Linked DNA regions of Homo sapiens. The protein of the gene in region 3 purifies or fractionates together with the protein of the main gene of each other region. This does not show direct contact. Each region holds a gene or a part of one and is shown on either strand. Other genes may lie near its edges.

Region 1 (2,349 bases), on a different chromosome or scaffold from region 3:
AAGGGTCAGGAAAGAACATTCAAATGTCAAAAATGATCCGGAGGAGTCCCATACTGCTCAGGGTAGGTCGCTTTGCAAAGCAATGAGAAAAATCTCTGAAATAGTTGTTTTCCCCATAGCCATCATTTAACATTGTTTCATTATTATCAGTTTTTTCTCAGGGTGGCTACTCTACCAGGAGCACACAGAAGTGCTCAGCGCCCCCACCCAGCTCTCCTAGCCCTCAGGGATCTGGGATTATAGTCTCCATTCTCAGGCAAACTCCTTTTATCAAGATGTTGAACATTCTAGGGAGCCAACTGACTTGAGGTGTACAACAGAACAGTCATGAGGAAGGGACCTCTATCCACAGTCCTGTGAGCAAAGGAAGCAACAGACAGCTGCCAGCACAAAGTCTCAACACACTGCCTCCAGGAAGTAAGACTGCAGGATGGCGGGAAGCAGATGTAGTATGGGTGCGCCCAGCCCCCCTCACCATCTGTGGACCCCAGGCAATGCAGTCAACCTTCATTCATCCTTTATTGAAAAGGCGGGGAGGGGCTATCAAGTCCTTTGCTGAATTTTAGTGAGAATTAATTCAGATACATACCAAATGCCTCACACATGCGTGGCTTGAGCTAAGTGTTATACACAGCTATTATTTTTAATTCTATTACACATAAACTCCCTGAGGCCGGTGACAGTGCTTTGCAATAATAACTAATCAACAACAGTCAATGCAGTAAGTGAAGAGTAGAATTCCAGCATACTAAAGGGTTAGGATCTAGGGATGAGAGCCCCAACCACCTCTATCAGAAACAGAGCTGCTGGGCCAGCTGTAGTGGCTCCCACCTGTAATCCCAGCACTTTGGGAGGCCGAGGCAGGCGAATCACTTGAGGTTAGGAGTTTGAGACCAGCCTGGGAGACATGGTGAAACCCTATCTCTACTAAAAATACAAAAATTAGCTGGGTGTGGTGGTGTGTGCCTGTACTCCCAGCTACTCGGGAGGCTGAGGCAGGAAAATTGCTTGAACCCAGGAGGCAGAGGTTGCAGTGGGCCGAGATCACGCCATTGTACTCCAGCCTGGGTGACAGAGTGAGACTGCCTCAAAAAAAAAAAAAAAAAGAGAGCTGCTAATTTAGAAGCAAATAACAGGAATGCTGGGTTCTGAGGCCAGCCCTAAGACAGCCAGAAACGCTGAGAAACTTCCACAAGCAACAATTCCTTACATTCAGTGCAGTGTAGCACTTCAAGAGAAATCCAGAAAGTTTCAGTTCCAGATGAGAACAATGAGGTGGTGAGGGGCTGATCTGCATACTATTGCTGAATTTGTCTGCACCCGCTAACCCCAATGATGAGAAAAGGGAGCGCAAAACATCCCTCAGAGCCAAGGAGGCAATTGCACACCGGTGATCACTGGGTGTTGTGAAGTGGGCAACAGAAGCCCCTGTTCGGACCTCAGGAGTCCTAACTTTTCCTTGTCGCTCTTTTCTCTGAACCACATGCTGTTTCCTGGGCTGAGAAAGGGCATGCCATGTTAGAGCAGAACTGAAAATAGACACAGCCACAGAAGGAACATCAGCAGGCAGATTATCGAGTCCGCTGAGATTTTGGCATTTTGGTCCTTGTCTGTCCAAGATATTTTTGGAAATAATATGGGGTGCTCCTGAAGGTCATGGGGGAGGGGGCAGGACCCACTTAGGTGAAAAGCCATGGGGCCCAGGTGAGCCCCTGTGGCCAGTCAGCAGCTCCCTTCCAGGGTCCAGTTTCGGGCATTGATAAAGAGCTGGAGCCAGGGGGAGGTGGTCAGAGTATCAAATGGAGGGGGTCGCCATGCCCACTGCCAAGGCCTAACGGCCCGCTCAGGGTGAGGCATGACAGCCAGGTGGCGGCCATCACAGGAGCAGATGCCAGCCACGCCCCCTGGGGACCCATTGGGATTCAGAGGGTACTGCTCTGTGGGGTTCCCGTCATCATCAGCCCAGTGCAGTGGAGCCAAGCCCCTGGCCTCAATCTGAGCTTGGAGTTCCGGAGAAGAAAATGCTACGTAACCTGGGATGGAAGGAGGAGGGAAGTGAGAGCCAAGGTCCTTCATGCCCACCCTTGCCCCCAACCCTCGGGCCCTCCCCCAGCCTTCCTTGGGCCTGACCTTCCCCGTGCGCACTCCACACGGGCAGCACGGCGCCCTCCATCCCTCGCAGCATCAGGGCTGGCCCAGGCCCCACACGCACGCTGGCCCAGCGAGACTCGTAGCGCCCAGACAGGTTGTGGCGTAGCAGAAGGCCTGGCCGGGCTGGCTGGGAGTCAGGGCCCATCTCTGCAGCATCCTCATTGGGGTCGCCTCCCACCCAGCCGAGCAGAGCCAGCA
Region 2 (3,500 bases), on a different chromosome or scaffold from region 3:
AGAGAGATGTGTCCCAGGTAGATGGTAAGCAACGGGAATAAAGTCATGATATGCCCAGAATAACCAATGATGAATGTTATTAGCCAGGTAGCCACCATTCTAGTCTTAGTAAAATAAGCATCCCATAAATGTTTATATAATTTTAGGTGTCAGAATACACATCAGGACAATCTGGACTAAGGAAACCTGAAATTTAATTCTGAAATTAATTAAGTAACCATGCCTAAGGTGAGCTTGTTTTCTTAACTGTAAAATGGAAGTGCAACCTTTAACTTTCCTCAGTGGCTCAGATGAAATACTGTGAAGGTACAGAGTAATGCTATATGGCACAAAGCAAAAAGTGCTGTGCAAAAGAAGACAGTGTGCTAAATATTAGGAAATTTCTGAGTTCCAGAAAATTTGGATTTTTAAGAAACTATGTCATGTCAAGATGTGCTTTGGAGTAACAATTTTCCCAATATTATATTAAGTATATACTAAGTATATATTAGAAGGGATTATATAAAAGGTGTTCAAAAAACAAATATCAGGAAAACACTAATTTAAGCAGAATTTAACAATTGTTTTTAACTTCAGAATTTCTCAGAGCTTTGAATATTATATACCATGAATCTCCAGGAAAGGACAAGTGAGCTTATGTTCCCCAAACTTATATGACCACCTAATCCTTTTTACATGGACCTTCTCAGTGGAGCAGTGTTCCATAGAACACACATTCTTACTCTCTATTTTTCCAAAATTCCTACTGTTTGCTTCAATACAAAATCATAAGACACTGTGGCTAGAAATTTTTTTTCATATAAACATAAACGTGTACTGACACATGTTGGTAAGCATTTTATAGGTTGTCTATTCTAGCTTTCAAATAACATGACTCTAAATCTGTAAAGACCAGATCACTAACATAGCCTCTTTCCAGAAGGCCATAATGAGTACCTCCTCATCAGATAGAGAATGTACCCTTTAAGTTTTGTAGGAGTCAAGTACCCCTTTGTCTTGGGGACAGATTTCTGTTAAGACAGACAGAAACTCTTCCCTTGCTGGTCCAGCAGCAGTTTTCTTGTTCCCTGGACCAGCCAGAATAAAAAGATGACTTCTGCCACGCATCATTTTGTTGTTTGTCTAACACTGAATCCCAAATAAAATTTCATTCCTGATTAATAGATCTGACCTTTTAAACTAGACAAGCAGCAGCAACCTGAGATGGAATTGTTAAGAGAAAAATATGGTAACATTCTTAGCTAAAATACTGAGAGAAACGGAGAGTTTAAGTCTACTACTGTCTACAGTACTTATGTGAATGTTATAAAAGATCTGTTAGAAACTGGTGGTGATGGCAACAAGTCCTACACCAGTTCTTAAATCCTCTCTTATAGCTAGTAGAAAGGATTACAAAGTTTGGCAAACATCTTGCATGTATCAAGACTGTTCACAGGTGTCTGAGCAATGAATAATATGTCTATAGATTAGATTTAAAAGCTCATTTTACAACTGTTTACTAGATGATATAAACATTTTTCCTCTCCCTTTTGTAAGCTGTAGGTATGCATCATAGCTTCTGTGATCTCAGAACCGTTTCTCTGACCAGCAAAAGAAGAGATGAAAATGCTCCTCTTGACCTCTATCTGCACTACACCAGAAACGTCATTGAGCCAGTTTCTTCTAAGGAGATAACAGAAACTTTCTATGCAAGGCTGTGGGGGGCTGGTAATATAAGGCTAGGAGGATAAAGCTCCTTACTAATAAACAAGCTGACATTGAATAACATGGCATCTATGTGGAACATGGTTTGAAAACATTTTAAGACCATTCATAGACATCTGAGACCACTCATAGTTTCTTCCTCCCAAGGCTGTGAAATAAAATTCAAAAGTACATCAACAAATTCCTGGTGCTTTTCCATCTTATGGTAGCTTACATTTTATACCCTCAGTGTCCTTCAAAAGTGGCTGGAATAGCCCACCTATACCTTTATCTGATATGTTCATCTCTTTTTCACCCTTTGGAGAAATAAGATTACTTATAAGAAAACTGATTCTCCAAAAAGTATATATAAGTAGTAAGTAACACTGGTAAATAATGGGCGTTTCTAACAGTTCTTAGAAACTGGTAAGGAGACAGAAGCCCATAATTACCCCCAAATTCACCCACCTTCATACATATTCACAGAGACATCAACAGTGAATTTATACATAAAGAATAAGTGAGGCAAAGGCAAAAGCAGTATCAATCTGTCTGAGTGTAGGCAATGGTGCTTTGATTATTTACCCGTACAAACTCTTCAGTCCCTTTTGGTTATCCCCAACTCAGCTCTTAAGCCGTAGATTTTTGCTGTGGAGAACTCAGATGTGATGTAGCTGCTCCAGTAACTCTTTTCACAGTACTGCATGTCAATAATGGGAATGATTTCTAATCAATTTAAACTGCACACGGTACTTTAATAGAACAAGAAGTTTATTACTCCCACTCAGTAGTTCCTGGGGGCTTTGATGTTAAGTCATACATAATTCGAGAAATACCAGGAATCTTCTTAATCTCAGTGACCATCTTTAATACCACCTATTAAAAAAAATTATAGAGAAAAGTCAGCATCCACTGCATGTCCAGCAGTCCTAGAGGGCTTACATTTGTAATTTGAAATTAAAATTTGACTATTTTCACTATTGTCCTCCATGTATATGGGATGGTTTCTGATTAATCTTATATAATGAACCTATTCCCCTCTGCAGGGATAGGTGTAAGTTATTAAGGTTTAAAATATTAGTGACTTAAACTCAGTACTACTCAAAGTGTGATCCACAAACAGGTGCTAGTCTGCAAGTTGTGTTTGTGACTGAGCCACAAGTGCTTAAGAACATATAGCGATTTGACATTGCTGTGGCATCCAAGCATGTGATTTTATGTGTTTCAGCCAATGCTCTGCAAATTATCTGCAGCTTAAACATACAACTCTAAGGGCCACCAAGGTGGCACAGAGTACACTGTAATAATCATTATCAAGTATACAGGAGAGGATAGCCTGCTCACTTGTCAAATTTGACAAATTTGAGCCTAAGAGAAAAATGACTCTAAGCCACGTTCCGAACCAACCCATCTACCTAGCTATCACGACAGCTTCGTGTTAGTGCACTGGAGGCAGTGGCCCAACTAATAGAGTCTCACTTTGATTTTCACTTGCTATTATGCAAGTAGCTCCTTTGGAATGTTCTGGTGAAGACAAAGAAGGATCAAAAATTGAGTTGGAATTGGTAGTAGGGAGAACATTTAGGCAATTCTTGGGTGTCTGGCCATAAAGCTATCAAATTGCATCCTTATTTCTAACAAACTCTTCTTCACTCCTAGAGTTTTCTTTTTTATTTGGGGAATACTGTTTGTAAAGTAGAAATTGGCAGGATTAGATAAAATTATAATCAATTACTTTTTATACAGTAATCACACAATTGGAGAGCATATATAATTTAAAGCCTTTTTCTGCCCCAGTGTATTAATCAAATATGTGA
Region 3 (3,500 bases):
AATCACTTGAACCTGGAAGGTGGAGGTTGCAGGAAGCTGAGATCCTGCTACTCCACTCTAGCCTGGGCAACAGAGCAAGACTCAGTCTCAAAAAACAAACAAAAAAAGAAGTAAATGAATGGAAATCAGAAAATAGGATACACAGCCTTTTTTTTTTTTTTTTTTTTTTTTTTTTTTACCCCACAATGTTTTTATTTCCCTATAGTACTGAGATCATGTTTAAGCCACAAACCTTTCCTCTGGAAGATAAGAAACTATGCACTTACTTTGAACAGCTCATCTTTAGAAAAACTTGCACAACTTACAAATCCTTAAGATTCAGAAAAGAGACAGCCTGAAAAGTAACATATTCAGACTTTTAATGATAGCTTCTCTTGCCCTTTATCGTCTAACATTCTGGACCATGATGATGGGTGATGCACACTGATTCTGATGTCTTAAGTTTGGACTTTGGGAGTCAATTTGGATCAGACATCCTGCCTGAAAAGCTGTGTTGCTCTCCAATTAGTGCCGGCAATTCTGGTTGGCCTTTAAAAGCTTAACATTCTTGGATTCACAGAAAGGTGTGATTTAAAAAATAGAGTAAGAATTCATTCAGGTGCTGAAACACAGTTTGCTATGACTAAGGTGGTGTCTTGGGCGTTTTCTGACTGTTTCCTGGAGGTTTTGTTTTTTTCTTTTTATACTTTGACCTATTTGTACATGATGTCCTGGAGTTTGAATGACTAATCTCCTGGGCCAGAGCACACTGTATTGGGAGGAAAGTGGTTGAGGTGTGTTCCCATTTTATAATGACTTTATCATTTACAATCCATTCTGTCTCTGATGTGGTGGGAAAGTGCCCTGAGGAACTTTTGCAAGGAATCTTACATGATACGTGATACCTACCAAATTTCTTCAGTTGAAACAGTGCTGTGAATGTTTTAAAGTGAGTCAAACTGGTGTTCAGCCCTCAGTCCTGCAGGTCACTCTGTCATGTCTTGTTGTTTTTCTGGATTGAGTTAAAAGTATGTAGTAGACCTGGGTAACTTATAATGAAGATTCTTGACCTTTATAGCAGGGCAGCCTTACAGAAACATAGCTCTTTCTGTCCTAAAAACCAGTTGGGATGAATTTCTCCAGTCTCTGCCAACTTCTTGTTTATTCTCATAATAAGATAAAAGGGGATTGCGAATGCCCTGTGCTATAGAATCCTCCAGTAACAGATAGAAAATTAATATTAAATAATCTTCATTCATTCATTTACCAGTTATGTATCCATCTGTTGTTATAGGTCATGAATATTAGATAATGACTAATTTTCTTTTCTTTTTTTTTTGAGACAGAGTCTTGCTCTGTGGCCCAGGCTGGAGGGCAGTGGCACGATCTCGGCTCACTGCAACCCCCGCTTCCCAGGTTCAAGCAATTCTCGTCCTCAGCCTCCTGAGTAGCTGGGAATACAGGCGCATGCCACCACGCCCAGCTAATTTTTGTATTTTTAGTAGAGACTAGGTTTCACAATGTCGGCCAGGATGGTCTCGATCTCCTGACCCTGTGATCTACCCACCTCGGCCTCCCAAAGTGCTGGGATTACAGGCGTGAGCCATCGCGCCTGGCCGACTAATTTTATTTTCTTAAGTCACACATTTATTCTGCTCATCAGATTTTGGATCCTCTGACCTCCACTCCCCCTCCCCTTACTGGGAGGCCTGGTGCTGCCTTGTGATTAGCTGAGGTTAGACATGGGGTTACCTGGAAATTGCTGCAGGCACCTGCTCTTTTCTCCTGTCACCCACAGTATGTTAATGTCCAGTAGTGGCATAGATTGGGCCGCCTGATTTCTGATGATGTATCTCTCTCATAAAGGAGCCAGTTCAGCAAGCAACATGCTGGCCCCGCATCATTTTAGCAGTCAAAGCAGTACTACCCCCAGAGTTGGCCCTGACGTTACCCTGGGAGGCAGGGATTTGGGCCTCAGAATCATCCGAACTGTCAGGCTTGATGATTATTTCTGTACGACTTCCAGCCTCTATTTGCCAGGTAGATTTTTATGGAGAGGGTAGTGATCTTCTGGCAGCATGCAGCGAGGGAGGTACAGATCTAAGAGAGCCTTCTCTGTATGTTCGACGGGAAGAGCCAGAGGGTCCGGCAGAGTGCGGTTTCACGGTTGCCCCGACATTCCCACGCTGTGTGCGGGCCATTTTTAAAATTAAGTTTAAAAAAATCAAATGATTTAAAGTAAACAGAAAAAGTATTTACATTTTGAAATTTCTATTTTAAAGAATTGGGAAGAAACACTTTTTTTTTTTTTTAAAGAAAAGCAAAAAGATTTGTAACATTTCTAGTATTTACACAGAGAGCGGTGCAAGTCTTTGAGTCCAGGTAGCTGTAGAAACCAGAACCAAGCTGAGTTTGTGATTTTCTAGGCCTGGAGTTTCTTGTAAGAGTCCACTCTGTGCCATGCCCTAAGGAAGAAAGAAAAGATGAAAGATGGGTCCTTGCCCTCAGGAAGTCATGGCCTGGTGAGGGAGAAGGACTTGTAAATGGAGAATTTCTGTGATAGAGAGAGATGGGACTTGTAGATGGAGAATTTCGGTGGTAGAGATAGATGGATTTTTGAATGGAGAATTTTCATGGTAGAGAGAGATGGATGATGTGTTCCAGGAGCACTTAGGAAGAATGTTTAGCCCATCTAGGCCAGGGGCTTCAATAAAGTTTACTCAGGGGTAGATCTTTTAAGAATGTGGATGAAGGGAAGGGACCCTTGGACTGAGGCTTGAAACCTTTCCCAAGGACTTTGCCATGGACATTTAACTCTTCTAGGCAGCACTTCAGGGAATTAATTCCACTGTTGATTTAGGGGAGTGAATGTTGATTGCTTCCCTCTCCGCCTTAATTAATGGAATGTATTCCATGACCTTGCTGTGTTTAAATTCTTGTCACTGTCAGCCGCCACCTTCATCCTACCTTCAGCAAACTGGAGAGATTGTGGAGAATTTGGAAAAACTGTTTCCCTTGAGAGTAGAGTAAAAGGAGAAGTTACTTTGTTAGAATTGGTACCATGTAAGCTTTCTTACAAATAATCTTAGCCAGGGTCTGGGTGTGGTGGCTCACACCTGTAATCCCAGCACTTTGGGAGGCCGAGGTGGGTAAATAGCTTGAGTTCAGGAGTTCGAGACCAGTCTAGGTAGGCAACATGGCAAAACCCTGTCTCTAGAGGAGGAAAAAAAAATTAGTTGGGCATAGTGGTGTATGCATTGTAGTCCCAGCTACTCAAGAGGCTGAGGTGGGAGGATCACTTGAGCCCTGGAGGTAGAAGTTGCAGCAAGCCAAGATCACTGCACTCCAGCCCGAGTTATACAGCAAGACCTCATCTCAAAAAAATAAAAAATAGGCTGGGTGCAGTGGCTCATGCCTGTAATCTCAACACTTTGGGAGGCCAAGGCAGGCGGATCATGAGGTCAGGAGTTCAAGACCAGCCTGGTCAACATAGTGAAAACCTGTCTGTACTAAAAATACAA

What was found.
Region 1: the proteins of TNRC6B (region 3) and PFAS purify together in Homo sapiens (affinity purification with mass spectrometry, with the first as the bait; one large-scale study listed by BioGRID). This does not show direct contact.
Region 2: the proteins of TNRC6B (region 3) and GMPS purify together in Homo sapiens (affinity purification with mass spectrometry, with the first as the bait; one large-scale study listed by BioGRID). This does not show direct contact.

Annotation. Positions count from the first base shown.
Region 1 is NC_000017.11:8,268,638-8,270,986, reverse strand, and holds the end of PFAS (phosphoribosylformylglycinamidine synthase), read right to left. Parts: coding exon 2,131-2,349; intron 2,034-2,130; coding exon 1,723-2,033; 3' UTR 501-1,722; downstream 1-500. UniProt on the Homo sapiens protein: Phosphoribosylformylglycinamidine synthase involved in the purines biosynthetic pathway. Catalyzes the ATP-dependent conversion of formylglycinamide ribonucleotide (FGAR) and glutamine to yield formylglycinamidine ribonucleotide (FGAM) and glutamate.
Region 2 is NC_000003.12:155,936,650-155,940,149, reverse strand, and holds part of GMPS (GMP synthase [glutamine-hydrolyzing]), read right to left. Parts: intron 2,560-3,500; coding exon 2,458-2,559; 3' UTR 1-2,457. UniProt on the Homo sapiens protein: Catalyzes the conversion of xanthine monophosphate (XMP) to GMP in the presence of glutamine and ATP through an adenyl-XMP intermediate.
Region 3 is NC_000022.11:40,257,925-40,261,424, forward strand, and holds part of TNRC6B (trinucleotide repeat-containing gene 6B protein), read left to right. Parts: intron 1-1,117; exon of another isoform or gene 1,118-2,444; intron 2,445-3,500.